Homo sapiens: one gene and its partner. The protein of the gene in region 2 interacts with the protein of the main gene of each other region in a biochemical or structural test. Each region holds a gene or a part of one and is shown on either strand. Other genes may lie near its edges. The genes, in order: MAEA and MKLN1.

Region 1 (15,404 bases), on a different chromosome or scaffold from region 2:
TGGCAGGAGAGGAAGGGAAGGGCCAGCGGGAAGAGATAGAGGCTCCCCACCAGGGCCCCACCTGCCTCCCAGGGGCTGCCTGATGGCTGCCGTGTCTAGAGCAGGCGAGTGCCGGGGCTCTGTCTAAAGGCAGGACGCAGCTGCCGAGGGGGTGCTCTAGAAGAGCAGGACTCTGGGCCCACTCTAGGTTACCGCTTCACACAATAGACACCTCAAACCTGCTTTTCAATAACACCTTTTGCTCTAGTAGGTTACTTTCAATTGGTCCACTAATATGTAAGTGTGTCTATGTCGTGAAACTTAGGTATTCAGACCCAAATCTAAAACACCGAGTCTACACTGTCCCATACGGCGTGGAGCGCCAACAAGGCTGTGCCCGCCCTGCGACAGGCGCCCACACTGATGGCTCCGTGTGGCTTTCGCACAGACGTGCAGCAAACAAATCACTGCTTCAGGGGCCTTCAGGGCCACTCACCCACCCATGCCTGTGAAATCCATCTCTCAGCCAGGTCAAACTTGGGTCTCAAGTTTCTTTTCCCATCTAGGTTCTCACAGCTGGTCCCAGGGACCCGTTAGAGCACAGTCTGGCTCCTCCTTGCCTCCCCACACACCCCCTGGCGTGCGTGCACATGTGAGCAGACTGCACAGACAGCCGTGTACCCCAACTGGCTCGGCCGCATCTCGTACCGGGCATGTTTTCGTGTCATTTGGAGTCTTCAGGGCGCATTTCTGGACAGCATCTAAATATGGATTCAGGCCCCGTCCAGTCTCGACTTCATCCAACACCAGGCACGCTCATCCAATCTCAACTCATCCAACACCAGGCACGCTCATCCAATCTCAACTCATCCAACACCAGGCACGCTCATCCAATCTCAACTCATCCAACACCAGGCACGCTCATCCACCAGGCATCCAATCTCAAATCATCCAACACCAATCTCAACTTTATCCAACACCAGACACACTCATCCACCAGGCATCCAATCTCAACTTCATCCAACACCAGACACACTCATCCACCAGGCATCCAATCTCAACTTCATCCAACACCAGACACACTCATCCACCAGGCATCCAATCTCAACTCATCCAACACCAGGCACGCTCATCCAATCTCAACTCATCCAACACCAGGCACACTCATCCAACCTCAACTCATCCAACACCAGGCACGCTCATCCAATCTCAACTCATCCAACACCAGGCACGCTCATCCACCAAGCATCCAATCTCAACTTTATCCAACACCAGGCACGGTCATCCACCAGGCATCCAATCTCAACTTCATCCAACACCAATCTCAACTTCATCCAACACCAGACACACTCATCCACCAGGCATCCAACCTCAACTTCATCCAACACCAGACACACTCGTCCACCAGGCATCCAATCTCAACTTCATCCAAACCAATCTCAACTTCATCCAACACCAGACACACTCATCCACCAGGCATCCAATCTCAACTCATCCAACACCAGACACGCTCATCCACCAGGCATCCAATCTCAACTCATCCAACGCCAGGCACACTCATTGACCAGGCATCCAATCTCAACTTCATCCAACACCAGACATACTCATCCACCAGGCATCCAATCTCAACTTCATCCAATACCAGGCACACTCATCCACCAGGCATCCAATCTCAACTCCATCCAACACCAGACACACTGATCCACCAGGCATCCAATCTCAACTTCATCCAACACCAAGCACGCTCATCCAATCTCAACTCATCCAACACAAGGCATGCTCACCCAATCTCAACTTATCCAACACCAGGCACGCTCATCCACCAGGCATCCAATCTCAACTTCATCCAACACCAGGCACACTCGTCCCCCAGGCATGCATTCAGGGCCCCGAGTCCTGGCCCTGCCTGTCCCCACAGCAGCTTCAGACAGGTCGTGTGCTCGTGGCAAGCCTCCAACACCCTCCAGCAACACTGTCCGGCAGGTAATTAGGGCTTGCAGGAATATCCTGGCAGCACCAAGAACCTATCTTCCCTCTGACATCCACAGGAAACAGCCCTGGCAGAGTTCCCACTGTGAGGTGTGTGCCGGCTCTCTGGGAGGGAGTGTGGGGCTGGCACTGTGTAGTGGGGCCGCAGGTTACATACCAATTCTGGCTTTCCTTTTAGGGTTTCCATACCAAGGTCCAAACTCTCTTTAGGGGAGCTACTAGCCGCTCTACTTTTTCGTCCCGTCTTTGCTTCGTGCTTGTTTTGGCGGCCCTGAGTGGCAGTGTGTCACTCCTGGCTGGTAACTGCGTGCACCCTGCCAAACTCAGCCAGGGTGAGGTTAAAGCAGCGCTCAGTTTAGAAGACAGAAAAGTTTTGCTAATGGAGGCAGAAGTGTTAACATAAGTTAAAACATTTCTGCAAGCCCCTAGGGTGACAATGCCTTTTAATAAGCAGGTTTAAATTTTGTCCTTTAGGAGTCCATTTCTTAAGCTTCTTTTGGTCTCTACAAAAGTCGGTACTCGGCCGGGCACGGTGGCTCACGCCTGTAATCCCAGCACTTTGGGAGGTTGAGGCAGGTGGATCACAAGGTCAGGAGATCAAGACCATCCTGGCCAACGTGGTGAAATCCCATGTCTACTAAAAATACAAAAATTAGCCGGGCATGGTGGCGCATGCCTATAATCCCAGCTACTCAGGAGGCCAAGGCAAGAGAATCGCTTGAACACCGGAGGCAAGTGAGCCAAGATCGTGCCACTGCACTCCACCCTGGCGACAAAGCGAGACTCCGTCTCAAAAAAAAAAAAAAAAAAAAAAAAAAAAAAGTGGGTATTCATTAACAATATCACAGCCCAGAGCTCTGCAGCCTCGCAGATGGAGAATGACTTCCCAACCAGCTTTTCTGTGTCTATGACTGAGCACAGGGAGCCCATGGAGTACCCCCATGGAGCAGGACTGACCTGTCTCCAGGCTCTAAGCCCAGCAGCCCCAACACTCTGTGTGCACATGGTCAGCCTCCTGTAACCCACTCCTTCTGAGCCTCATGCCAGCTGTACACAAACTGTAATGCCAAATGAGGTGCACTTTTCCAGATTTTAGCCTAAAAGTGTAACACAGCCACCAAAAAAACTCCCAAACCCAACCCCCACCTTACAAACCAAAACCAAACTACTGTGAACCACCAGGCAAGGGGGTGCTGGCTCCAGGGCAGGTGGCGCAGCCTCGGCCCCGACCCACTCCCACCCCAACCTGGGAGTCCGTGCACCTTCATCTTCCGGAGCCGGGACTTGTTGTCATGGCACCAGGCCAGGCAGGTGGCCGTCTCACGCCTCTCCAGGGACTCCTCCACCTCTTTGGCCGTCAGGAACATCTCAATATTCACTAGGTCCTTAGAGGAAGGAAGCAGCACCTGATCAGAATGTGCTGGCTCAAGGCCCCCATGCCACCCTCCCACACCCCAGCCTCCATGAGGCAGGCCCAGCACCGGCCACCACTCGAGATGCATCTCCAGTCCACACTGTGGGTCTGCACTCGTGGACTACTCAGGGCCGCTCTGAGATCCTAGGAACAGAACAGCCCCCAAGGACCAAAAGGTCGGACGCTCACGTAGACAGCAGCCATAGCCGGGCAAGGGAGCCAGGCTGGCCCCACCTGTCCATGGAGAGGAGCTGCTGAGACACACATGCAGGCAGGGCCAGGCCACATGCCAGGCGGCCCTGTCTCCACTCCCCACAGCCCCCCAGCACATCTACAGGCCCTCCCTGGGCAGCCCCCTCATTTCAAAATCAACAGTAAGCAAATAATAACATGCTAAATAATACATAAACACATTATGGCTAATATCGCGGTAGTTACAACCAATGATTTATATGAAAGCAAAGAAAAAAAAAAAAAACAACAAAAAAAACAGAGTAACCCAGGCTTAGCATCAAGTCTCCGCTAGTGGCCGGGCACAGGGGGTGGGTGCTCAGTGCCTAGCAGTGGAACCCATGGTCTCTGGCAGGGGCAGGACAGCAGCTGGTACGGGACTCCACCAGGCACGGCAAGGCTTGGGGCAAGCGCTCAGGTGGTCCTCAGCAGCAATGACTCCCGACCTTCCCCAGTGGGACCAAGGACGGCACCTCCGCCTGCACATAGCCCAGGACCCAACGGCCCAGGATGAGGCCACAGTTCACCACTTGGGTCCCACAGCCCCACGTCTGGACCACCGGCCTCACAGATGCGCTGTTTTCTTTGATGATTACTCTTTTCTGAAACCCCTCATAACGTTGTTTTCTTGCACCTTTTCTTTCATGATTTCTTGTTTCTGAAACCCCTTCATAGCATTTTCTTGCATGTTTGCTTTGATGATTTCTCTTTTCTGAAACCCCTCACAGTGTTGTTTCCTTGCATCTTTTCTTTAACGGTTTCTCGTTTCTGAAACCCCTTCATAGCGTTTTCTTGCATGTTTGCTTTGATGATATCTTTTTTAAAGCCCCTTCATAGCGTTTTCTTGCACGTTTGCTTTGATGATTTCTTTTCTGAAGCCCCTTCATAGCGTTTTCTTGCACATTTGCTTTGATGATTTCTTTTCTGAAGCCCCTTCATAGCGTTTTCTTGCATGTTGATTATTCTTTTCTGAAGCCCCTTCAAAGCATTTTCTTGCATGTGTGCTTTTGTTTGTTTTTTTGAGACGGAGTCTCGCTCTGCCGCCCAGGCTGGAGTGCAGTGGCGCAATCTCCACTCACTGCAAGCTCCGCCTCCTGGGTTCACACCATTCTCCTGCCTTGGCCTCCCGGGTAGCTGGGACTACAGGCGCCTGCCACCACGCCCGGCTAAATTTTTGTATTTTTAGTAGAGACAGGGTTTCACCGTGTTAGCCAGGATGGTCTCGATCTCCTGAACTCGTGATCTGCCCACCTTGGCCTCCCAGAGTGCTGGGATTACAGGCGTGAGCCACCGTGCCCGGCCTCTTGCATGTTTGCTTTGATGATTTCTTTTCTGAAGCCCCTTCATAGCGTTTTCTTGCATGTTCGCTTTGATGATTTCTTTTCTGAAGCCCCTTCATAGCGTCTTCTTGCATGTTCATGTTGATGATTTCTTTTCTGAAACCCCTTCATAGTGTCTTCTTGCACGTTTGCTTTGATTATTTCTTTTCTGATGCCCCTCCATAGCGTTTTCTTGCACGTTTGCTTTGATTTCTTTTCTGAAGCCCCTTCATAGCATTTTCTTGCAGGTTTGCTTTGATGATTTCTTTTCTGAAGCCCCTTCATAGCGTTTTCTTGCATGTTTGCTTTGATGATTTCTTTTCTGAAGCCCCTTCATAGCGTTTTCTTGCATATTTGCTTTGATAATTTCTTTCTAAAGCCCCTTCACAGCGTTTTCCTGCATGTTGATGATTCTTTTCTGAAGCCCCTTCATAGCATTTTCTTGCATGTTTGCTTTGATGATTTCTTTTCTGAAGCCCCTTCATAGCATTTTCTTGCACGTTTGCTTTGATTTCTTTTCTGAAGCCCCGTCATAGAGTTTTCTTGCACGTTTGCTTTGATTTCTTTTCTGAAGCCCCTTCATAGTGTTTTCTTGCACGTTTGTTCTGATGATTTCTGAAGCCCCTTCATAGTGTTTTCTTGCATGTTTGCTTTGATGATTCTTTTCTGAAGCCCCTTCATAGCGTTTTCTTGCATGTTTGCTTTGATGATTTCTTTTCTGAAGCCCCTTCATAGCGTTTCCTTGCATGTTTGCTTTGATGATTTCTTTTCTGGAGCCCCTTCATAGCGTTTTCTTGCATGTTTGCTTTGATGATTCTTTTCTGAAGCCCCTTCATAGCGTTTTCTTGAATGTTTGCTTTGATGATTCTTTTCTGAAGCCCCTTCATAGCGTTTTCTTGCATGTTTGCTTTGATGATTCTTTTCTGGAGCCCCTTCATAGTGTTTTCTTGCATGTTTGCTTTGATGATTTCTTTTCTGAAGCCCCTTCAGGGCAGGCGAATGTTGGGTCTCCCACAAAGTCTTACTTTGTTTTGCAACTTGAAAAACCATTTTTTTTTTTTTGAGACAGGGTCTCGCTCTCTTGTCCAGACTGGATGGAATACAGTGGTGAGATCATGGCTCACTGTTGCCTCAAATTCCTGGGCTCAAGTGATGCTCCCACCCTGGTCTCCCAAAGGCCTTGTTTTGTAGTTTTGCTCTAAATTTCAGGAGGTGGCTCCTGGTCTATATCCTGCCTCATGTCCCGTCAACACAGCCTCGGGGTCTGAACCCAGTTGGATCTCTCTTACTGAGGGTTTCTCCAATGTCCGGGTCTCCGGTTGTGAGAGTCACATGAAAGATGTGAGGCCAGCTGGCAGCAGGCTCGTACGTCAACTGAAACTAGAAACCATCTAAGTGAACTGGTTTTCTGTCTCACACGAAATGCTCATGCTGACTTTTGTTTGTTTTGAGACAGGGTGTTGTCCTGTTGCCCAGGCTGGAGTGCAGTGGTGCAATCTTGGCTCACTGCAGCCTCCACCTCCTGGGCTCAAGTGATCCTCCCACTGCAGCCTCCAGAGTAGCTGGGACCCCAGGCACCCACCAACACTCCCAGCTAATTTGAAAAAAAATTTGTAGAGAAGGGTTCTCACTTTGCTGCCCAGGCTGGTCTCAAACTCCTGGGCTCAACAGATCCGCTCGCCTCAGCCTCCCAGAGTGCTAGGATTACGGGTTGAGAGCCCTGCGTCCAGCCTAAGGCAGCACAGGCAGGCGCACAGCACCAGCCACACTGAGGACTCTGTTCTGCCCCTCCTGGGCAGCCTTCCCTCGGCAGCAGGCTTCCTGTCCTGTTCCTGTGTGGCCTTCCCTGGGCAGCAGCTTCCTGTCCTGTTCCTGGGTGGCCTTCCCTTGGCAGCAGCTTCCTGTCCTGTATTGTCTGGGACCTTGCTCCAATCCAGAGCATGAGGTTATTTTCCTAAGTTTGTCACGTCTCCAATTTTGGTGCACAGGAATTTTGGTGCACAGGTAGGAAACTGGGGTCCCACGTGGGAATTCCATGGCGCCCCCTACAGGAAGTCCAGGTCTGACCAGCGCAGCCGGGGTTTACATTTCCACAACCTGGCAGCTCCCCCTCGGCCACAGCAGCACCTTCCCCAGGGCTTCCTAGTGCCATGGTCACCTGTGGTCAAAAGCGATTCCTCAGCTCAACGCCCTCCGGAGCATCTCAGCAGAAAGAACCCCTCCCCCGCAACCCAGTCCTCATGGGCTCCACACGCCCGCCTTCTTCCACACAGCAGCTCCAGGCCCTCTTTTGGACAGACATGCTCAGGGCACCCCAACACCTTGAGTGTAGCCCGTCTCACCCTGCTGAGGCCTACTCCAACTGGCCTTAGAATCATCAGCACTCCCATATCCACCCTGCTCTACGCACTTCTGTGGAACGCGTGGCCTGTGCCCACCACAGGACCCCCTTCTTTCACTTCACGTCTCTCTCCCCCAACACAGCGCACATTCCCTGGGGCCAGGGGCACCCACAGCTCATGCTTCAGCAGCCACCGCCAGGTTGCTTGGTCACACCCCATGGGTCCCAAGGACAGTGTGCTGGGCGTTTAGGAGAGGATGGCTAGGTCATCTATGAACACACGGGGGGCCGCCCCAGGCAGCCAGGACATGTGGGCAGCACGGAGCGAGGGCCTGTGCATTGGGGGAAGCCGGGCACACGGGGCCAGGGAGGCGGGTGGGTGGGAAAGGCATGTGGGACAGGGCACCGGAGCGGACATGTGCTGGCCCACTGTCCGTCACATGAGCCTGGGCAGGTGCAGGTGAGAATGCCCTTCCCTGACACCCAGGTGGAGGAAAAATGGCACCAGATGGGGGCCACAGCAGCCCAGTGGGCAGCACGGCAGAGGCATCACAGACGACCCCGTCCAGCGATGAGAATGTTGGGTGCACACTGGAGTGGCTGCGAGTCATGACCTGGAGACTTCGGAAACTCAACAAGACTGCAGGGCACCCAGGGGCACCAGCCCCGGTCACCGCAGAGGATCAGTGCACTTTGCCATCTGGCAGATCAACTCATGGCACAGCTGTGACACATCACATTCACGCTTGTGAACCGAGACGCCATACCCCAGCGGTGCCGAGAGCAACAGTGCTGTGCAGGTCTGGGCAGATGAGGGCCTCCAGGACACGAGGACTCACTCGCTCACCCTGCCCACTGGGCAGCTGCTCGCCACTCCCCTCCTGGAGGGCAGGACGGACACCACACACACACACAAGCAGGGAGGCTGTGCAGCAGTGGGGAGAAGGCATGGGTGGGAGGGTGCCGCTCCACCCAGGGCAGCATCTGAGAGAAGGTGAACGAGGTGCGGGACAAATGCCGAGGACAAGAGCCAGCAAGAGGGTGGGGCCAGGTGGGTCTGCGGGTGAGTCCGGAGTGTGGGGCCTGCAGATGAGTCCGGAGTGTGGGGCCTGCAGATGAGTCCAGAGTGTGGGGCCTGCGGGTGAGTCTGGAGTGTGGGGCCGGGTGGGCCTGCAGGTGAGTCTGGAGTGTGGGGGCTGGGGTGGGCCTGCGGGTGAGTCTGGAGTGTGGGGGCTGGGGTGAGCCTGCGGGTGAGTCTGGAGTGTGGGGGCTGGGGTGGGCCTGCAGGTGAGTCTGGAGTGTGGGGGCTGGGGTGGGCCTGCGGGTGAGTCTGGAGTGTGGGACCGGGTGGGCCTGCAGGTGAGTGTGGAGTGTGGGGGCCGGGGTGGGCCTGGGGGTGAGTCTGGAGTGTGGGACCGGGTGGGCCTGCAGGTGAGTCTGGAGTGTGGGGGCCGGGGTGGGCCTGGGGGTGAGTCTAGAGTGTGGGGCCGTGGTGGGCCTGCAGGTGAGTCTGGAGTGTGGGGCCGGGTGGGCCTGGGGGTGAGTCTGGAGTGCCGCAAGGCTGGGGAGCTGGGCAGGAGCGTGACAGGAGTGTGGGGGAGGCTGCAAGCCAGCAGGGCGTGCAGATGGCTGCATGGGGGCGTGAGTGTGGCCCCATGGGCACCCGAGGCCTTGGACTGCACAATGTGAGGCCGCCTCCAAGGCTGGGAAGGGAGCCTTGTGCTGGGGTTGAATTCAGCCAGGGCTGAGGCCCATGATGCCCCAGGTGGGAGCCACACACATGTGGGTGGGATTTAAGCCGTGGAAAGAGAGAAGACCCCTGGTTAGACAGAAGCAGGGAGGAGGTGGGCTGAGGAGCCGTGGCAGGGAGCAGCATGGGAGGGAGGCCTGTGGGGCCAGGCGCATGGCTGGGCATGGGGAGGCTGGGCCCGGGACAGGGCCATGGGGCACAATCCTCTCGCACAAGTCCTGCCTGAGAGGTTCTCAAGTGTTGTCATCTCAGTCAAATGGAACACGGACGCCACCTTAACCCGAGTCAGGTGAGGCTGTGCTCCCACAGCAGGATCTGGACAGGGGCAAGGGCGACGGGCCCAAGTGCTGGTCTGGGAGGCTCCAACTGCCATGGGCCCCCACAGCAGTGGACAACTGCCCGATGGCAGAGAGGCCGCCCCAGCTAACCTGGCCCAAAGGTGCCAGAGGGCAGCACCGCCCAGCGTCTGCTCAGCTGTAGCCACAGAGGGCAAGGGTGCCACGTGTTTCTACAGGGTGCCACAGAAAACACGGAAAACGCACCCCGCCTGAGATAAAGGCAAAGCTCTCACGAGGAAGCAATGGAGCATGTGTCAGCGCAAAACCCGGGGTACAGGTATCGGGCGGGAAAATCCTAAGCAGGATGTGTGCAGACACCACAGGGAAATGAGAAGAACCTGGAGAGCCGCTTAGACACTGACTTCCTGCCTTCAGAAGGCTAAGTCCCAGGTGCGTTTCCACAAAGGGTCAGGGCCTCTCAGCTGGGGAGGAGGCCCTCACCACAGCGCAGACACACACACGGGGTGGGGGAGAAACACGCACATTGGGGGGGGGGGGGCACACACACGGGAAGGGGACACACGCACACAGGGGTGGGGACATGCACATGGGGGGAGGGGGACACGCACACGGGGAGGGGGACACACACACACACTGGAGGGGGGACACACGCACACGGGGGTGGGGGGAGGGGAACACAAGCATACGGGGGTGGGGGGAGGGGAACACAAGCATGTAGGGACACAGGCATGCCGGGGGACATGCCACAGGGCGGCTGGCCATAGGCCTGGGGCCAGCTGGGGCGCTGTGCCTGCGTCTGGCGGGCACCCACCTCGATGCCGCTCTGGCGCGCCAGCTTGACAGCCGTGTTGTAGTAGCCGCAACGCAGCAGGTGCTCCACCATCATGCGATCCATGCGCTTCCTCTTCCACACGCTGGCCGCCGCGGGCTGGTCGCTGCTATGCTCTTTGAGGTGCTCGATCCGGCGCTTGCACAGCTTGGCGCTCTCGTCCTCGGCCTGGATGGATTCCACCGCCTGAGCCACACACAACAGAGGCACGTTCAGGACAGGGATGCCCCGCAGCCCTGCACCAAGGGAGGCCAGGCTGCCCCAATCCACAACACTCACAAGGAGAAAAGCAGGGATTACGGGACAGAAAAAAAACCGTGCTCTACCGAGTCCGCTAGGCAGGTGTGCCTGGCCCAAGAGCTGCAGACGGAGGCAGTGAAAATCCACCACCCTGGATCTGCAGCTTCTCTCTGCTATTTCTGGCTTTATATTAATATACCCTGAAGCCATGTTGCCAGATGCATACAATTTCAAATTTGCTATGCCTTTCTGGTTAAACTGTTTATCATTATAAGGTGACTTTAAAAAAATCTTTTGCAATACTTTTTTTCTTAAAGTCAATTTTGTTAAAAATGAATCGGGCTAGATAGAAACGTTCCAGGCCTGTGCTGCCCAACACAGCTGCCACCAGCCCACGTGGCTGCCACACACTTAAGGGCAGTGGTGCAACTGAGGAACTGAATTCTTCGCTAAAAATTTGACAGCACACACGGCGACTGACTACTGGACAGATCCAGGATCCGGGCTGGCTTCTTTCAGCACATTCTACCAATTTTGGCTTCCAACTGCTGTGCAGAAATCAGCTGTCCGGCTGTCTGTTGCCCCTTTGGAAGTCATCTTTTGCCCTCAGGAGCTTTTCAAATATTTCTTTGTCTCTGTTTTCTTCAGTTCCACCACGGGAAAATCCCATGTCGGTTTATTTTCACTTACTCTGTGTCGGATTCTGACCTGGTGGTACTCATCAGTTCTGAAACCTTGGTCACTCTCCCCGCACCATCTCTGTCCCCACCCACTGGTGGGCTCTGGTGAAACATGCCACAGGTTTCTGCTCTATTCCATGCTTTACTCTCGCAGCCACTTTGATTTTTCAGTCTCTGTGCTCCATTCTCGATCACCCTCCAGTTCACTAATTCTGTCTTTAGCTTTGTCTGTTAACTGTTAAACTGTTATAGGCAAATGTTGAGTTTTTCATTTTTGGTTATTATATTTCCCATTTCTTGAAATTTTAGTCCCTTTTAAATTCTGAATTTTTTTTTTTTTTTGGAGACAGAGTCTCTGTGCAGGCTGAAGTGCAGTGGTGCGATCTCAGCTCACTGCAACCTCCAGCTCCTGGGTTCAAGTGATTCTCCTGCCTCAGCCTCCCGAGTAGCTGGGACCACAGGCGTACACCATGCCCGGCTAATTTTTTTGTATTTTTAATAGAGACGGGGTTTCGCCATGTTGGCCAGGCTGGTCTTGAATTCCTGACCTCAGGTGATCCGCCTGCCTTGGCCTCCCAAAGTGCTGGGATTGCAGGCGTGAGCCACTGTGCCTGCCCAATCACTTTTTTAAGACAGTGTCTCACTCTGTTGCCCAGTCTGGAGTACAGTGACACAATCTCTGCTCACTACAACCTCGACCTCCTGGGCTCAAGCGATTCTCCTGCCTCAGCCTCCCAATTAGCTGAGACTACAGGTGTGTGTCACCACGCCTGGCTATTTTTTGTAGAGATGGGGTTTTGCCATGTTGCCCAGGCTGATCTCAAACTCCTGGGCTCAAGCAATCTACCTGCCTCGCCCTTCCAAAGTGAGCCACAGTGTCCAGCCTTAAATCACTTTTTATACTGTCTGTTCCCTGCAGAGACTTTCAAACTTTTTTTTGAGATAGGGTCTCGCTGTCGCCCAGCTAGAGTGCAGTGGCATGATCGTGGCTCACTGCAGCCTTGACCTCCTGGGCTCAAGCAATCCTTCTGCCTCAGCCTCCTGAGTATCTGCTGGGGCTACAGGAGGGCACCAGTACGCTTGGCTATTTTTAATGTTTTGTGGAGATGGGGTCTCCCTGTGCTGCCCAGGCTGGTCTCAAACTCCTGCGCTCAAGTGATTCTGCTGCCTCAGCTTTCCACAGTGCTTTCCAGGTGTGAGCCACCGCGCCCAGCCTGCTTCTGTTCTTTAAGCACAGTAAGGTGTGGCACCTGGCAGCCCCTGCACCTGCAGTCCGTGCAGCCCTCTGTCTACTGCCTGCTGGGTCTCCAGTCCATCGTGGTGTCTTGAGACAGGGTCTCACTGTTGCCCAGGCTGTCTCTGTGCTGGACGTTGTACTTGAAAACTGAGAATCTAAGAATCATCTTATGCCCATATTGAAGGTATCCTCCCCAAGAAAGAATCTGAATTGACTCTGCCCGGAGCTGGAAGGCACCACCAGCCGGGACCACCTCACCGGAGTGAAGGCTGAGGGTCTCCAATCATCCCAGTCCTCTGAACGTAGGCTGCAATGCTGTGTCAACGCCAGTCCACTTCTGGTACACCCCACGCTGAGCTGTAGTACCGTGGGGTCCCACCTTCTCTCCACTGGGCCCCACTTTCCAAGGCTTGGGTCATCGGTCCTCACCTCCATCTGGCCTGGCCAACACTCCAGGGGACAACAGCAGTCTCTTGCTGCTCACCTCTGACCCCTGCCCTCCGGTTCTGGCCTGGCGATTCCTTTCGGTTTCATGGTTTATTGGGTATTTTCAGTGCGACGTTTCAAGATATCTCATCCCACTTTCTGGGTGTCTTCAGTGGGCCAGATTAGTCCCAAGGCCCCTGTCCACCAATCCCAGTGACAAGGAACTCCACATGCTCCTTGGAGGTGAAATTCCATCTAAAAATAATCGATCAGGCCGCGTGCAGTGGCTTACACCTGTAATTTCAGCTTTGGGAGGCCAAGGCAGGTGAATCACCTGAGGTCAGGAGTTCGAGACCAGCCTGGCTAACATGGTGAAACCCTGTCTCTACTAACAATACAAAAATTAGACGGGCGTGGTGGTGGGCGCCTGTAGTCCCAGCTACTCGTGAGGCTGAGGCAGGAGAATCGCCTGAACCCCGGAGGTGGAGGCTGCAGTGAGCTGAGATCGCACCACTGAACTCCAGCCTGAATGACACAGTGGGACTCTGTCTCAAAAAAAAAAAAAAAAAAAAAAAATCAATCAACCTGCTATACATCCTGGTCTCCCTGTGGCCTGGACTCTGGACACTCCTGGAGCAAGACAACACGGTCCCTACAGGAACAGGAAGCTGGCCTGCTCAGCCGACAGTGGCCCCAGAAGGCAGACAGCAGGGAAGGGGGCCCCCAACCGCACCTCCCGCGTTCCCATCATTGCAGCTTGCCTGTCTTAGGACTCATTTTCGAGACAAAAGGGGTGTCCATGCCCCAGACTGAAGAGGGACCGCCAGGCGGGACCAACCTTCCTCTTGAGGACGCTGAGCTTCTCCACCACGCCGTCCAGCAGGCTGACCACGGAGTCCACGGCGGGGCAGCCGCTCAACGTCTTCTCCAGCTCGGCCACCACCATGGTGACGTGGCTGGTCTCCCGGTCAATGTTCTTCTGAGCGGCGCGAAAGCGTTTGTTCAGCGTCTCGTAGGGCACCTGGAGAGGAAGGAGGATGGTGAGGGATCTGCTCCCCTGGTGTGAGCCCCACCAGCCCCACACCCAGGACACACCAGGTCTCCTCATGGCACTTGTAGAGGCAGAAGTCTCAGAAGGTTCATGGTCTCAAAAGTATCTACTCTAAACCTCAACCAAGACCCACAAAAGCCCTGCTGAACGGAGAGCCACTCCACATCCCTGGATGAGAAGCAACCCCAATTTTTGCCAAAAACATTGTACGTGTATGTTGACAAAATAATCCCAAAGTTCATCCAGAATAACGAACAGTTAAAGAAATTTCCAAACAGGAGAGGAGTGACCGGGGTGTGAGGCTATCAGACGGTAAAACACAGGCCTGGCCGGTGATCAGCCAGGCTGCTGCGGCTGCAGGCGCCACCACACGAGGCCAGGCCGGGCAGGGACAAGGGTGCATGGGGCGTGGGCTCCACACGGGCTGGGGTTGGGCACAGCAAGCCTCACACACGCACGGGAAGCCACAAGTGCACGACCCACACCTCTCCTGTGTGACAGCGTTTGCCTTCCCCAGTCGTAAGAACCATCCATTCCCTGTGGAAATAAGCCAATCAAGGAGAATCTTAAAGTCGTTGTTAGTTTTCTGTCCCTCTGAGAGAAGCGCTGCTGAGTTCTTCTCCGCCCGTTTCCTGTGCTCTACGGTTTGAAAGCGGCACGACAGAATCACGCCCCAGCGCTCCCCGGCCTCCGTGGCCGGGCTCCCGCAGGAAACACCACCTGCGGTCCTGGCTGCACTGGTGGCCGGCAGCTCACCACACAGCGCATCAGCAACACGGCCGTGCTGCCGCCCAAGAGCAGTGGGCCCAACTCTGCCGTCGCAGCTGTGCCAGAACAAGCGCTCCACCTCGCCTCCTCTCCAGCCGTGCCCAACCATGGGAGGACAGACTCTCGGGTACCGCCTGCTCCCCCGGCCCTGGGCACGCCTCGACCTCGTGTCAGCCACTGTGCTTAGCCGTGAGGCCACGTGAGGAAGGCAGGGCTGCAGTGAGGGAGACCTGGACGCAGCTCAGCGCTTGGGCTTCCCAGAAGTAGGGACAGCCAGGGCAACAGAGACAGGACTGGCCTCAGCCGAGGAAGGAGCCACACAGCAGGGCTCTTCCCTAGACTCACTTTCCCCCCGAAAGCAGGGGCAGGAGGCGGGTGGCAAGGCCGGCCCTGAGCCCGTTCCCCCGGCTGCCACTCCCCACTCGGCCTGGCCCCAGCTGCCCTCCACTCAGACATCCCCCAGCGCCGACGTGGACCCACCGCGGGTGACAGGGTGCACACGCTCTCGTCCACACCAGACAGCCACACAGGAGGCTTTGCAAATGGCAGCCAGCATCACCGTCTGCTACCGAGCAGGACTCACCCTTGCTGGTGAGCAAATGAGTCAGGATGTTGAGAAGGAGGGCAGGGAAGCTATCAAGACACAACACGCTTAACCAACTCACAAAGCAGTGACAACAGGAGACGGACTCGAAGCCAGGCACCGTGTGTGGCATCTGGAACCAAGCTTGCTGGTGCCACGCAGCCTGGGGTCCCATCATCCACACTGCCTGCCTTCAAGATTTCTCCCAAGGATTCGGCACTGCTTAGGAAAGACGGGAAAGATTCTTTTCGTCTGCTCTACATCTAGT
Region 2 (15,404 bases):
AAACCCCGTCTCTATTAAAAGTACAAAAATTAGCTGGGCGTAGTGGCGCATGCCTGTAATCCCAGCTATTCGGGAGGCTGAGGCAGGAGAATCGCTTGAACCCGGGAGGCAGAGGTTGCAGTGAGCCGGGATTGTGCCACTGCACTCCAGCCTGGCGACAGGGCGGGACTCCATCTCAAAAAAAAAAAAAAAAAAAAAAAAAGTATAAAAGGATCAGAAACATAAAGAGTTATGACCATACTAATTTTTTAAAATGTCAGTAAGCACAATAAGCACATTCCCAGGGCCAAAATGAAAATCAGTATGATTTTGCTTTTAAGGTTTTCATAAAAATTTATTTATAGATAAATCAAGTTCTGTAGATGTAAACTCACATAGCCCTCATATCTTAGTTTCACAGCCTGATAACAGCAGAAGGGAATGAAATTTAATTTTCAAAATTTTGGAGCTAGATGAGGTCTTATGATCAACTGGTCCAATCTCCTCATTTTCAGATGAATAATCAGGTTCAGAGAAGTTATATAATTTTTCTAGAATTACAGAGGGATGAGTGGCAGACCCAGACAAAGAGAGACCAAGTCTTCTGATTCTCAATTTGCTATTCTTTCAATGGTACCAATCTGCTATAATGGTTAGAACAGGATGGAATAAACAATGGCAGATGTGGGAAAACAGAGTGGACACAATTTAAAAATCAAAACAAGTAAATACATAACTACTAAAGAACAAGCATCAGGTTGTAAGACCTCAGTATTACCAATACTTGACTTAGCATTTGGCAAATGAAGAAGGTTCAATATATGCTTCTTCCTTGAATGAATACGAACAGGAGAAAGCACTCTTACTATAGTAGACTGAGTTTCTATAGAAAACTACAAAACTCTGGTGGTGTGACAGACCATCTTCTACACATAAGTTTCAATTAGTGTTAAATACAGAGCTTACATATGGGGAATCTGCTAAACCCCTTGTGTTCACAGTCTTACTTGCCAAAAGTTTCTCAGAAATAAACTCAAGTTTTAGATATGCTGAATTTTGATGTAATTATGTATGTATTAGACACAATGCTAATAAATCCCTTAAAGCAGCTGCCAATCCATTGATTTAAATTATAATTTTCTTCTGAGGAGAGCATAAAATTGTTACACTGTAGTTTAAAAATAAGCATTAAAGTTTCTTCAGATCTTCAGATGTTAAATCTAAGATGGTACATTCAGATAATTATAAAGAGCAACAACTTAAGATTTTATAGTATCTGACAATACAGAATTATATAAACAGCAGTAATTTTACTATTAGCTATACCATCTCGGTGATCTCAATAGTTCAAACAAATTTACTCTATGAGCTCAAACAATCCCATTTGATACTCACATTGTAAATATAATTTTAATCAAATAAGCCACATTACTGAATCACAGATAAACACAGTAATTATATGTTAAGTCCATCTCAAATTACAGTAATTAACTGTAGTAAAAAATCTTTAGAACAACAGTTAACAAACAACAGAATGATTAATAAGCTACAGAGCATCTACATAATGGATAAAATTGGTGTTTTCTAAGAATATTTTAAAAATGTGGGAATTTAAATAGTATTCTGCCTTCTTAAAAGTACTTTTCACTGCTTACAATAAAAATCTAGTAAGAGAGAAAAAAATGTACTTTTTAAAAGTGAGGTAAAATAATTCTATGGGAGGACAATATAATATACCATGGTTCTGATGTGAGGTTTTCTGAACAGTCTAATTTAGTTCAGTAAAAGACTTTTAGGAGATCTAGAGTACTGAAACCACTGAATGCTCTTTAAGAAATCATGAACAAGTCTGTGTATTTCAGCTGATCTTTGTATAGGTTTTGAAAAGCACAGTCAAGATTTTACAGCCAGATGAATACCTAGAATTGCGTTAACAATGATGGCTAGAGCCACATGTTTTTATATTTCTAACCTGGGCTTAAGGCATTAGAGAATTTTGGGCGACAACGATCTACAAGCTAAGATCTGAGAGGTAAGCAGTACAAGTTAGCTAGATTTTGGAGGGGAGAGGAAAGTGATTCAGGTAGGAGGAATAGCATGGGCAACTCTCAAAGGCAAGTTAAAACACACTATCTATAAAGATTTAATATTCGGTGGTCGTGAAACAGAGTTGGTGGCAAGAAGAGTACAGACACCAAGACTAGGACTGGAGAACTAAAATGGGGCACATCATAAAAGAGTCTGTGAATTATGTTAAGTTTAGACTTAATCCTGAGGGCAGGGAGAAACCATTAAAAGATTTAAAGTGAGGAAGAAAACCCACTAGGTTTGTATTTTTAAAAATATGTTCTTTTCTTCACTAGCACTAATCTAAAGGTAAGGCTGTCACTTTATTTTTCCTCTCTGTGTACAACCATAACTCCATGAAGATAGGGCCCTCATTCACAGTTGTACTCCTAGTGCGTAGCTTATTGTCTGGCACCTAGTAGGTGACCAAAAAATATCTGCTCTATAAATGTTAAGGCATATGGTTCTATTCTTTACTGGTAACACAGAATAGCTGTATCCTGCTTGCAGTGTGGAGAATGGGTTGCAGGGAGGGGTACATAGGGAGAGGAAGTCTAGAGACAGAGGCCAAATAGGTGATGTTAGCCCAAACTAGTTCATAGTGAAGCAGCAATGGGAATAGAGAGAAGATGAGGCAAAATTGGCATGACTTGATGTTAACTGGCTAGATTAGTGAACCTGAGGGTAGCAGTATTAACATCCTCTTGTGAAAATTAAGGCACCCAACAGTAACACCAGTCGAAACTAGAGGGTTAACCCATCTCTACTCCTAGGGTAGCCATGGACAGAGACGCTATTTTCCTTAAAATCTAATTTGGGTCATTTACAAATGTGGAAGCAAAAGCTGAGACATTAGGTAACTTGCTTAAGGTTAACTAAGGACTGAAATAGACTCCGGAGAGCTAGAACAGTGGTTCTCAATCCCAGCCGCATATTAGAATCCTCTAGGAGAGAGAAAGTTGGGGGAGGAGTAAAAGGGACATGGGAAAAAGAATGGGAAGGAGGGAAAAGGAAGAAAGTGAGAGAGGCAGAGATGAGGGGAAAAAAAAACAGAAAAAAAGAGAATAATTTCCATTTCACTCTAATGTGCTAACAGAGTCACTGAGGTTCCTCAATTCCAAGTATAACTGCAACAGTTTTAGGTGGGAAATTTTTCCAAGTAATTCTAACCAGATGCTCAACCCTGCCATAAAAATCCTCAGTAAACAAGCCTTTGAACAATGCAACTCACAGGAACATTGTCAAAATTAACCACTTGGAAAATATACACCTAGACAAAGAAGTGGTATTGTTAAAACTTAGATCAAGACACTGATATTAAACCTTTGAATAATCTATTTTATTCAGAAAAAAAATCCAAACTCCTTGCATTTGTAACAAGGCACTAAATACTCTGACTCTTATCTCCGTAGCTCTAACCTAGTTTCATACCAACTTTTCCAATCCTCAATACGTACCAGTCCCACTATTTCTGAACATCCCAGGTTCCTTCCTGCTTTGGGAACTCTGTACTTGTTCTTCTCTCAGTTCTTCACATGGTTCTTCCTAATTCTCTACTTTTCATCTTAAATCTTAAAGATTACCTCCTCAAAGATGGTTTCCCAACCTACTCTGTTTAAATGAGACTTCCCTTGTTATTCATTATCACGGCATCCAGTGTATTTTATTCACAGTACTTAGAACACAACTGCAGGTCTCTCTCCACTAGAATGTGAGTCCTCTAAGGGAAAGGATCTTATCCTCCAGGTCCATAGATGAATCCCAAGTGCCTAAAATAATCTTGGGCCTACAGAAGACAATGAACTAAGTGGGGAGGGAAGGAGGAAGGGAGAGGGACAAACTTAGATGCTAGTAGATGGTCAACAAATATTATTAATGAATTTATTTGCATTGTGGGAAAATTCAATTGTGTAAACCAATTACACACTGAACACACACAGTAAAAAATGGTGATTTTGATTTTAGAAAAATTGATTATAGCAGTAATCAAACAATGAATCCATTTGTCTTTTCTAATAACATCTCCAGTTCACATTAATAAAACCACAATAATGGAAAAAATCCCACAATTTAATGTAAATTTTAAAATAGAATACAAACTTGTATCAACTTTTATACAATAAATAAGTTTTAAAAAGACTAGACAGAAATATATCAAAATTTTAACAAGTTATCTCTGGACAGTTTGACATATTTTCTTTTTTGCATCTTATTTTTCAAATTCTCTACAATGAGCATATTTTTACTTTTATGACCACAACAAAATTAAATAAAAAGAATAATTGCCACACTGCTCTAAAGCTAGCCATAACCATGATTGAAGAATAATTGTCGATACTGTACATTACTACATAATTTTAACTCATTAAAAAATTGTTTTGAATGACAGTCATTAAAGCCTACTTGTCATGGTGAATTTTTATTTTACTAGTTCTCTGTCACTATCACGCATTGCCACTTTTTTTTCTTTTTTGAGACAGAGTCTCGCTCTGTCGCCCAGGGTGGAGTGCAGTGGCGTGATATCGGCTCACTGCAAGCTCCACCTCCCGGGTTCACGCCATTCTCCTGCCTCAGCCTCCCGAGTAGCTGGGACTACAGGCGCCCGCCACCACGCCCAGCTAATTTTTTGTATTTTTAGTATAGATGGGGTTTCACCACGTTAGCCAGGATGGTCTCGATCTCCTGACCTCGTGATCCACCTGTCTTGGCCTCCCAAACTGCTGGGATTACAGGTGTAAGCCACCTCACGTGGCCGCCACTTTTTTCTTTTAATCTTGGGCAGTAGTTTAGCATGGCAGAAACACCTTCCTTGCACTCAAACTTCTAAATCCCAGCTCTGTCATTACGTAGTTGTGTAACTGTTTTCATCTTGTACATTAGAATAATACCACCAATTAAAGATATTCTGGTATATGGTAGGGTCTAAATAAAGAGTAGTAATTATTATCCATGGGAATACATTACCTACTAGCTAGATTATAAGCACTTTGAGAGACTGTGATTGCCTTGTATCCACTGTGTCCGTAGTCTAGCACTGAGTCAGCATGCCATAATTTTCAACATATTGTCATATCAATTACTATCTTCACTACCTTTTTCAGGGAGACCCATCTTAGGATTGTAGAAGGAGTATTACCTCTCTCCTGCTATTTTATTTTTATTTTATAGAGATGAGGGCTAACTATGCTGCCCAGGCTAGTCTCAAACTCCTGGGCTCAAGCAGTCCTCTCACCTTAGCCTCCCAAAGTGCTGGGATTAAAGACATGAGCCACTGCGCCTGACCCTCCTAGTTATTTTAATGGTAAGTTAGAATAACTCTTAAAAGCCAGAGAAAGTCAAATATTAAATCATATAGCTCTACACTCTCCTATGGCAACAGTAAATAAATGAGTAAATAAGACAATTTTAGATAGGGTAAATAATGTTATTACCTATTCAGGTCCATATTTCTAAATCACATGCTAAGCTGCTATTTTAGACATTACCTACTAATTTCCTGTTGTAATAGACGAAGATGTTTACTACACTTACACTATCTTCCCACTATATTTCATCCCAATTTTTGGTTAAACTGGCTGTAGTTCTGCATTATGATTAGGGAAATACTGCTTACTGTAAAGCCAAGAAATTTACTGTGATAATGTCTCCTTTTTTATAAAAAGTTTCGCTTTTCCTGTTGTGTCCCTATCCTTCGTTTTTTACATTAGATGCTATTTATACTCATCAACAGATTTTTCTTCCAAATGCTTAACATATCTATTGAGTCTACTTTTATCTGGAAACCTCCTTTTTGTAGAGACAGGGTCTTGCTTTGTTGCTCAGGCTGGTCCTAAACTCCTAGATTCAAGCAATCCTCCCATGTCCGTCTCTGGACTAGCTGGAATTACAGGCATATGCGACTGTGCCTTGCCTATCTTTTGTTTTTTTGTTTGTTTGTTTTAAAACAAGTTTTTCTTCTTAAATGTGAACAAATATTTTAATTTAAAAATATTTTTGTTGTTTTTGTTTTAAAGGAAGCTTGTATTAATCAATAAAATATCCAGAAACAATGTCTGTGAAACAAGTGCTTTTATCCACATTTGGCAAAAGAGCCAATAATAAAAACACCAATCTATAAGCAACAGCTAAAAAGAAAAGCAGCTGATTTAATTTCTCACTCTATTGTTCAAATTAGCATTTTAAACCATTGCACCTTAATTAAAGCCACTCTTTTAGGTACAATAATCACAGGCAAAGCAACTACTATGTAGGGTAACTATAAATGATCAAAACAGGACACTTTTGAAAATGAATGGAGCACTATTAATAATTATGCCAGGGCAATATGCATAATCTAAGCAAACCAGCCATTCCACTACTAATAACCTCCTAGATGCTGAGCTTTTAAACTTACAAGGTGTTACCAATCCCATGAAGTTCCCCCCTTAAGACACACACCCTACTATGCTAGTGCCTAATATAAAGATCACTACAGTGAAAATAGAAGATGAAAAAAATTAGCAAACACAGAATAAAAAGTTTTTAAGATATTGATTCTTCCTACCCCGCCCCCCAACAAGCACACACACAATTCATTTAGAAATTCACATATTTTCTGCTTGAAGGAAATAGTAATTCCCATATTTAAAAATAGATAGAACTGAATAAGCTGGTAGAATTTTCTTTCTCTTACTTGGAATTACTCAATTAAAGAAATAAAGAAAGGGTGAAAAATGATTAGAAAGAAAAGAGAATGAACTGCAGTTTTCTACCTAAAGTAGTTAAGACATGAGAGAAGAAATCACTCAATGCCCTTACCCATCCCAGAGTCTTTCTTGGTGCCATCTGATATTATGTCTACATGATCAGAGTCCACATCATAACTAAAGAAATCATTCAAATAGGTCTTTGATCGCTGGCCACCAAATACATATAAGCAACGATTTTTCTGAAAAAGAAGAAAAAAAAAAAGAAAGGAGTAACTTATCACTTCCATGAAGAACTCAGAATGATCCTTTAAAAACTTAAACCTCTACAAAAGTAATTTTATAACAGATCCCAATGGAGTACTATGCTGGAATAAAAGGGAAAGAGGAAGCTCTCTACATATTGCTAAAAGGGGATCTCTAGGACATCCTGTTAAAGAAGAAAAGCAAGGTGCAGAATAATATATACAGGTTCCTTCTTCCTTTGTGTAGGAATGGAGAAGAAGGAATATCTGTGCATCAGACAAAAAGAGAGGGAGAGAGGGAAAGAGAATGTGAGAGAGGGGAAAAGTGAGAGAGAGAGCACGCAAGCGAGAGCGAGAATAGAGATTGCTTCTTTTTTTGAAAAACAAAGGAAGGATAAACCAAAACCTAATAAAAGACAGTTACCTATAGTGGCAGGAACAGAGCAGGAAGACCTCTCCAAAAATAATACCTTGATGTATGGTTTTGACTTTAGAACAATGTATATGCTTTTATTTAATTAGAAGACAAAATTAACTCAAAAAAAAAATCTAAAATTTGGGCAAAAAAAATCCAACAAATAAACCTATCTGTATATAAAGATATACTCAGACACAGAAATAGTATTTCTAATGATTTTAATACATACTTTTTGACTACCCATCCCTAGAAGTCTAAATCCTAAACAGAAAAATAATCAGAAAGCAACGTTAAACAGCACTCAGTGATTCTGTTGTTAGTTTTCTTTACTGTGAAAGCTATTATAGACAGACAAAGCAACTAATGTTATGAAGCAGGATTTTAACCTTAAAAGACACAAAAATAGGCCAGGCATGGTGGCTCACACCTGTAGTCCTAGCATTTGGGCAGGCCAAGGTGAGAGGATTGCTTGAGACAGCCTGGGCAACACAGCAAGGCCCTGTCTCCTACTTCCACTTCCACTTCCACTTCTACTACTACTACTACTACTACTACTACTACTACTACTACTACTACTACTACTACTACTTCTTCTACTACTACTACTACTACTACTACTACTACTACTACTACTCAAAACCCAGGTGTGGTGGTACACACCTGTAGTTTTAGCTACTTGGGGGGCTAAGGTGAGAGGATCATTTGAGCCCTGACATTCAAGGCTGTAGTGAGCTACGATCTGCGCTCCAGTCGGGGTAAAAAGAAAAGATATAAAGTTACAAAATAGAAGACATTAAGATAAAAAATATTTTATTTGAATCAGACATATCAGTATGAATTCACAATTTAATTTTTCTCTTACAAAAAAAGATACATAAATATGTTGTGGGGGGTGCTCCTACTAGCCAAAGAGAAAAATTTGAGCATCAAGAAAGTGGCCAGGTACAGTGGCTCATGCCTGTAATCCCAACACCGCAGAAGGCAGAGGCGGGTGGATCACCTGAGGTCAGGAGTTCAAGACCAGCCTGGCCAACATGGTGAAACCCTGTCTTTACTAAATACAAAAAATTAGCCGGGCGTGGTGGTGCATGCCTGTAATCCCAGCTACTTGGGAGGCTGGGACTACAGGCACAGGTCACCACGCCAGGCTAATTTTTGTATTTTTACTGGGGATGGGGTTTCGCCATGTTGGCCAGGCTCGTCTCAAACTTCTGGAATCAAGTGATCCACTGCTCCTGACCATTGCTGATACATTTAAATTCTAATTCTATAAAATCAAATCTTAAATTCTTTGTACTTAATGGAGAATAGCAGAAGGGAAAATAAGAACAGAGTAAGAAATTGTCCTTCTAATTACTAAGAGACGTAAGTGGAAAGGCATAAGAAAGGAACATAGCTACAAAATCTACATAAGCAGTGAAATTAGTCATAAGATTGCCCAGGTTGGTAGCCAGGTAGTAACTATTTAGGAATTACCAGGTTGATGGGAAGAGTCTCATAATTAGCAAACAGTTCACTGTTAAAGAAGTTTTGTCTTTCTCTGTCATTGCTACACTAATCTCTTCCTAAAGAATTAGATTTCACCACTTCTTTTCCTATCTAGATATACATGACAAAATAACATTTACGCAATGTACGGAATGTTCTTACTGAGTGGAATAACATGCAGTGTCCTATTCGAGACTGGATGTCCTCAGGCCCAGCATTACAGGAGTCCTCTCGAAGAAGTTTCCAGGTTTGACATTGACAGTTGAAAGCAAACAAGCCACTGAATTGTGGTTCACTGGCTCTGCTGTCATCTACGCTGCCATTACAAGTCAAAATTCTACCACCAAAAGTGTAGATCATATGTTTTTCTGAGTCCATACACATCTATCAGAACAAGGCAACAGATTGAATAGTTTTAGTTTGTTCCTGTCATATGTGCTAAAACAAAACCAACATGTACAGTTTTACATTCTCAAAAAAACCCTAAACTTTGTCCCTAATGACACTAAATACCACCCCTGATTATCATATGCAAGTTTCTAAATAATTTTTCAAGTTGTCATTTTTGTCAGTGAGGGTAAAAACATGTTGGAATAAAGAGCTTTCTGCTTTCTTGAAATTGCATAATTTTTATCAAAATCAACCAATGATACATGAGGCGTTGATTTATATGTAAGAGTGAATACTTATATTCTGGGTGAATAGTGATCATACCCTCCTTATAAAAATTCCCTTCTTTCATTCTAGGCAAGCATCCTATTAATATTACTACCATTTACTAAGCGATCAGATATGCAAATAAGAGTGGTGAAGCTAAATTCACCTCTCTGCATTTATTTTTATAAAACCCTTCAGATTATGTTACAAAACAGTAAAACAAACAAACAAAAGGACATTTACAACAATCAAGTCTCCAGACTGACTTCTACAATGTGAAGAACTCTGCCTACTTTTAACATAGCACTATTTAATTTTCTTTGAATTAAGCTATACACTTCATGTTTAAAAGTCAAGCTTTATTCTTCCATTCTTTCAACTCAAGATTATAACTTTTCATAAAAATGTGTGAGAAAACAGCCATTTGTCACGAGACAATAAGAATCAAATTCTGTTTCAAATAACACATAAATCCAAGTTGGGAATTAGCTGTTGAACGTAAGTGGCATTTACATAAAGAATAAATTGTGTACACAAAACATCTATGTTTTGCTAAAATAAAACCCAACCATTTGATGTTCAATTCTCCTACCAGATTACTTCTGCTATTTATGTATTTTTTTAAACAAAAGGCTATTTTCATAATTTGTTTTTTTTTCCTAGACAGAATTTCACTCTTGTTGCCCAGGCTAGAGTGCAACAGCATGAGCTTGGCTCACCACAACCTCTGCCTCCCAGGTTCAAGCAATTCTCCTGCCTCAGCCTCCCGGGTAGCTGGGATTACCAGCATATGCCACCACGCCAGGATAATTTTGTATTTTTAGTAGAGATGGTGTTACTCCATGTTGGTCAGGCTGGTCTTGAACTCTCGACCTCAGGTGATCCGCCTGCCTCGGCCTCCCAAAGTGCTGGGATTACAGGCATGAGCCACCGTGCCTGGCTATTTTCATAATTTTAAATGTTGTTTTAAAAAACTGTAGTTATTATTAAAAAGATTCTAACATCTCCTAATTTTTATCTACCACTAAAAAGATCTACCTCATTAGCCATTTCCCAGGTTTCTCAAAGACTTCCATAAATTAAGATGAAAATCTATTCCCCAAGGGTGAAATCTTGGTAAACATGGTTGAAAAACAAAGATGTCTGGAAGTATTCCTATTTTTTAAAATGATCATACAGTTAAAATCAGCACACTGCTGAAAACAACTCAGTTTGGCCCCATCCACTGCCTCCGTTGAGGGCTCCACTGGAGCTGGGTCACATTTCCGTTTCTGAAGTACTTCAGACTCAATCACTCCAAATATCTGGGAACTATGCTGAAAATCTTTAGGGACTCACATTAAATGAGTCTATTTCCATTTTTTATTAACTCACAGATTCATACTAATGGCCAATCTTTGTTACCAACCCCCTACCTTTCTACTTCGTATGGCTACAAAGAGTTTCTTTCTTTTTGAGAATATTCAAGCTTAATTTTGATGTGGTTTATTCTCATTTGTTTGCAGGGCTGAAGTATAAACATCTTTATCTTGGTAGTTCTTCCTAGCATACCAGTTTAAACCAAGAAACCTTTTAATATTCGATTTCCACGCTTTTGATTTGTTTTGTCATTTTTACTCTCCGAAAAAATTTCTGAAAAGCTAGTAAACTTATTAAACTCTGTGTGATAATGTCTTTTCCATCAAAGACTTAAAAAAATCTTTAAAGCCAAAAGTTTAAAGACTATTCATTTATTATGTCAGGAGTTAGATATTTAATTTTTAAAATCAAAATAGTGGATAACCACTTATTTTCCTGGGAAAAATTATTTTTTGAACCTGAAAATGACTTTATTTTACTCATCACAGGAATACAAGATTGGTAAGGGTTTGGCTGGGTTCAAAATAATCTTCTCCTCACAAAATTTGAAGATATTGCTATAAAGGCTTCTAAGTATCCAATGTTGTCCAACCTACCACCCTCCCTTCTACAAACCTCCAAAAATGCCTCATGACCCAGTGAGAATATCAATGAGCTGAGATCTTCAATTCTTCAACTGAAGTTTTTCCTGCTACTTCTTGGCTAGCTCACTTTCCATTTTCTAGTAATTTCCACAAAAACTGATTATACTTGAAGGACAGTTTGGCTAGATATAAAATTCTTGGCTCATACTGTCTTTTCTTGAATGTCTTCTAGATGTTGCTCTATTATCTCTTGGCACTGAAAGTAGATGTAGAGAAATCTGATACCAGTCTCATTTTAGTTCTCTTATAGGTGACTTGATCATTTTGTCTACTTGCTATAAAATGATCTCTTATCTTTTATAGTCAGTGTTATTAATATATGTCTTAGAGTTAAGTATTTGGGTCAACTTTTTCTGAATATAGTATGCCCATTTGACATGCGGAGTAAAATCTTTCTTCAGGAAAATGTTCCTGAATTCAATTGATAAATATTTGTTTTTTCCATTGTTTTGGCTTTCTTCTTTAAAGTCTCCAGTTATATATATATATGTTGGCTCTCCTCTGCCTACCTTCCCTGGTTAATCATTTTTACCTCTTTGTTTTATCTTATTCCTATGCTATATGATCATTACCTATTCTTCTTTACGCTCTTTGTAGATAAGTCTTCATTTCTGAAAGGGGTAATGTACTGGGATATAACTTTCATTTATTGTTATTTTTCTTTTTATTGTTTTTCTTTAGAATGTCTCTCTAAAGCTTTGTTATTTATTGCTTTTTAGTTTTTCATATGTAATTGAGTTGAATTTCCCTGGACCAGATAACTTCACAGAGGATTTCTATAGAAGGTGGATGTTCTCGCTCAAGAACTCCTTCCTCTGTTGCTACTGAATTGAATGGCTCCTTCAAAATATGGCACTTCCGGTGAAGCCATACCTTCTCTAATTCTATGACTCTCATCTGGCTTACAGGGCTGATCTCAAGCTTTGAGCTCCCCAGGTTTCTTACTGGCCATTGCAAAAGGAGCCATCATTCCCACTGTGTTTCCTTCACTTTTACAAAATAATGCTTTCTGACACATATCACCTCTGGATATTTCTGGGTACTTTACACATGTTAATTCACTGATTCTTCTAGTGGCTGCCCTGGGTGCAATTTGTGCCCTGTCCCTGACACTTCTCACTGTGACATACAACTGCTAGGCTCCCTTTGCTTTCCCAGGTCTCCCTATTATACTGTTGTGGGCTTCAACAAAAGTTCTGAGTATTTTAGTTGTTTCTGGCTAAACTTACAAGGCATTGGGAGTTATAGGTTTACTCTAGCTCTTGGTTTTGCTGAGAGAGAGAGACTGTGTGTGTGTGTGTGTGTGTGTGTGTGTGTGTGTGTGTGTGTGTGTGTGTGTTTAAATCTTTTTGCTTGATTACCATTATTCCTGGAAAACCACACAAAGCAACATCAAGGAAAGCTTGAGAACTAAACCGCCACTATGTTCTTAAGAAATCCAGATGTCTTTAAATTTTATTTTTTAAATATGTTAAAATTAAAAATGGCAAATAGCTTTTAAGCATGTTTGTATCGTATAGCTTTCTCATATTTTTATCAAATTTGAACATTGTGTTAAATCCTAAATTGTCATGAACACCACAAGCTATTTTTGGAGTGTCATAAACACTACAAGTGTAAGTTCTAACTTATAGCTTTATTTGTATGAAATAGAATAGCAAATGCAGGATTATACAGATTACTTGCTCACTATTACAGGGATAGTTGTTGGCTGAATTAGTACTGAAATCCTTGTTTCTTCACCCCCAGTGTTCTGCTGTACCATCTAACCAGTTGAAAACCATGCATTATTTAACAGCACCCAGCTTTCAAGAAACATCCTATTTTATAAAAGTCAAGAGAAACAAAGGCCACACACAAGAACTCTCTATGTGCTACTCCTAAGCTATTCTTTTTTCAACCTGTAAAAAAAAAAAGACATCAGCATCTTTTGTAAAAGAAATACGTAACCATTTGGGAACAAGAGAATAAATTGTTCCCTAACAATATTATCTGCTGATGTTTTTAAAAGATCAGAACCAGCCTAACTTTTCTTGGCATGCTTATTTTCCACGTGAAGAACATTGAGGGTGTCAGCAGGGATGTGCATAGCTCTGTGGAGCTCAGTTAAATAGAGCCAACAGAAGTTCCAAATTTAAGCTGGGGAGTATTTCCAAGAATACTAGTTTTGATTTTCTACCTACCACTTAACTTCACAGGCATAACTCACTCTTCCTCTCCTTACCATTCTCCTATAACAATTATATGTTAATAGAAATATGGCAATAGGATAGTTTAAAAGCAAATAATTAACAAAAATCTATAAAGACACAATAAATAAAGACCCTGGGTTCTATGTCCTAGATAAGATTTTAGGTCTCACTTAAGTTTTGTCATAATTCTAGCACCACCTCCCATTTCCCAAATACTAGATAATTTATGTTCATCAATACAGAGTTATAGATTTTTGAAGTCTTTTTCTCCTCAATACATCAAAAAAAACTTTGGACATGGGTTGAGCCAGGTAAAAACTTGCTTATGGAATTCAAAATGGTTACTGTCTTTTTTGACCTACATTGAATTTGTATGGAATAAGTATTCAAAGACAGGTAACAATGATAATGACAATGATGGGGCTAATGAGAGCTACATGTATATTAATATTAAAATGGCTTACAATGAGGCTATGTTCAGTCTTCTAGTCTACAACATTATTGTATAATTTCTATTGGTGCTGAGTTTAATCTAGTATGTCAAATTCCCCTCTAGGTTTATACAATTTTGTGACTATAAACAAAACAAAATATATTTCACTCTAACTGGAAGAAAAGCTCTAGATTTCACCTAGTTCATTATAAAGTGATTTCCATTTCTCACAGGAATGTAGAATAAGAAATATAATTAAAAGGGTAAGTTGTTATTGTTGATTTATGCATATGTATTATAAAACTAAATTTGTTTTTCCTAATATTGCTCCATCTACTCGCTAAAGTTTCTATAAATCAACAGTCTATGTCCTGAGATCTTCATATTCTACCCTGCAACAAACAAGAGAAAAAAATTTAAAGAATAACTTTATACCTACTGAAACAACAATTATTACTGTCAATAGATATTTGTCATGGAAAGCACTACTGGACAACTCAGCATAACATCTAACATAAACTCTAATTGCAAGAATCACTAAGCACTGATTAATTCCATCATATATTTAACTGTGCATCAAACCTGATGATCAAACACCAATTTCGGCCCTCCATCAGCAGCAGTATCCTCACTTAGTAACATCCATGTGTTTGTATCAATGTCATAACGATAGAAGTCACTTTTCAGAGATTTGCTGTTCCTCACAGAGGAATCCAAGTAACGCCCCAATGTGTAGATTTGCCTCCGTTGAATATCAATGCACATTTTATGACACGATCTGGCACTAGGACCATTCTGTAGAGAGAGAGAGAAAATAAATAAATAAACAAATAAAGAGCAAAAAAAAATCAAAGAACAAATAATAGAAAAATTAAACGTCATTTTTTATTACCTTTCATTAAAAGGTTTCTCAGAAACTCACATCAAGTCAACCAATATGAGTCCAACACTAGGCTTAACTCTCTAAAGGAAAGCAAAAGCAGTAAGCAGTAGGAGACAGAAATCTTACCTTAGAAATGCTTAAAATCTACCAGGAAAGATGAGATGAACTACACTGCAGCTTATGGCACTCTGTTTATAACATCTATACGGTTTCTACCATATACTGCACTGCATTTTAGTCATTTGTGCAGAGTTCAATTCTCTATTACATGACAATCTACTTTAAGACATGTTTGGTCTTTATGAACATTTTTGTATTTCTCATCAGAATCTAGCACAAAAGAGGTACTCCAAG

What was found.
Region 1: the proteins of MKLN1 (region 2) and MAEA form a complex in vitro, tested with the Homo sapiens proteins (one study listed by BioGRID).

Annotation. Positions count from the first base shown.
Region 1 is NC_000004.12:1,310,330-1,325,733, reverse strand, and holds part of MAEA (E3 ubiquitin-protein transferase MAEA), read right to left. Parts: intron 13,756-15,404; coding exon 13,573-13,755; intron 10,338-13,572; coding exon 10,134-10,337; intron 3,354-10,133; coding exon 3,231-3,353; intron 1-3,230.
Region 2 is NC_000007.14:131,437,343-131,452,746, reverse strand, and holds part of MKLN1 (muskelin), read right to left. Parts: intron 14,963-15,404; coding exon 14,750-14,962; intron 9,267-14,749; coding exon 9,045-9,266; intron 6,974-9,044; coding exon 6,844-6,973; intron 1-6,843. UniProt on the Homo sapiens protein: Component of the CTLH E3 ubiquitin-protein ligase complex that selectively accepts ubiquitin from UBE2H and mediates ubiquitination and subsequent proteasomal degradation of the transcription factor HBP1.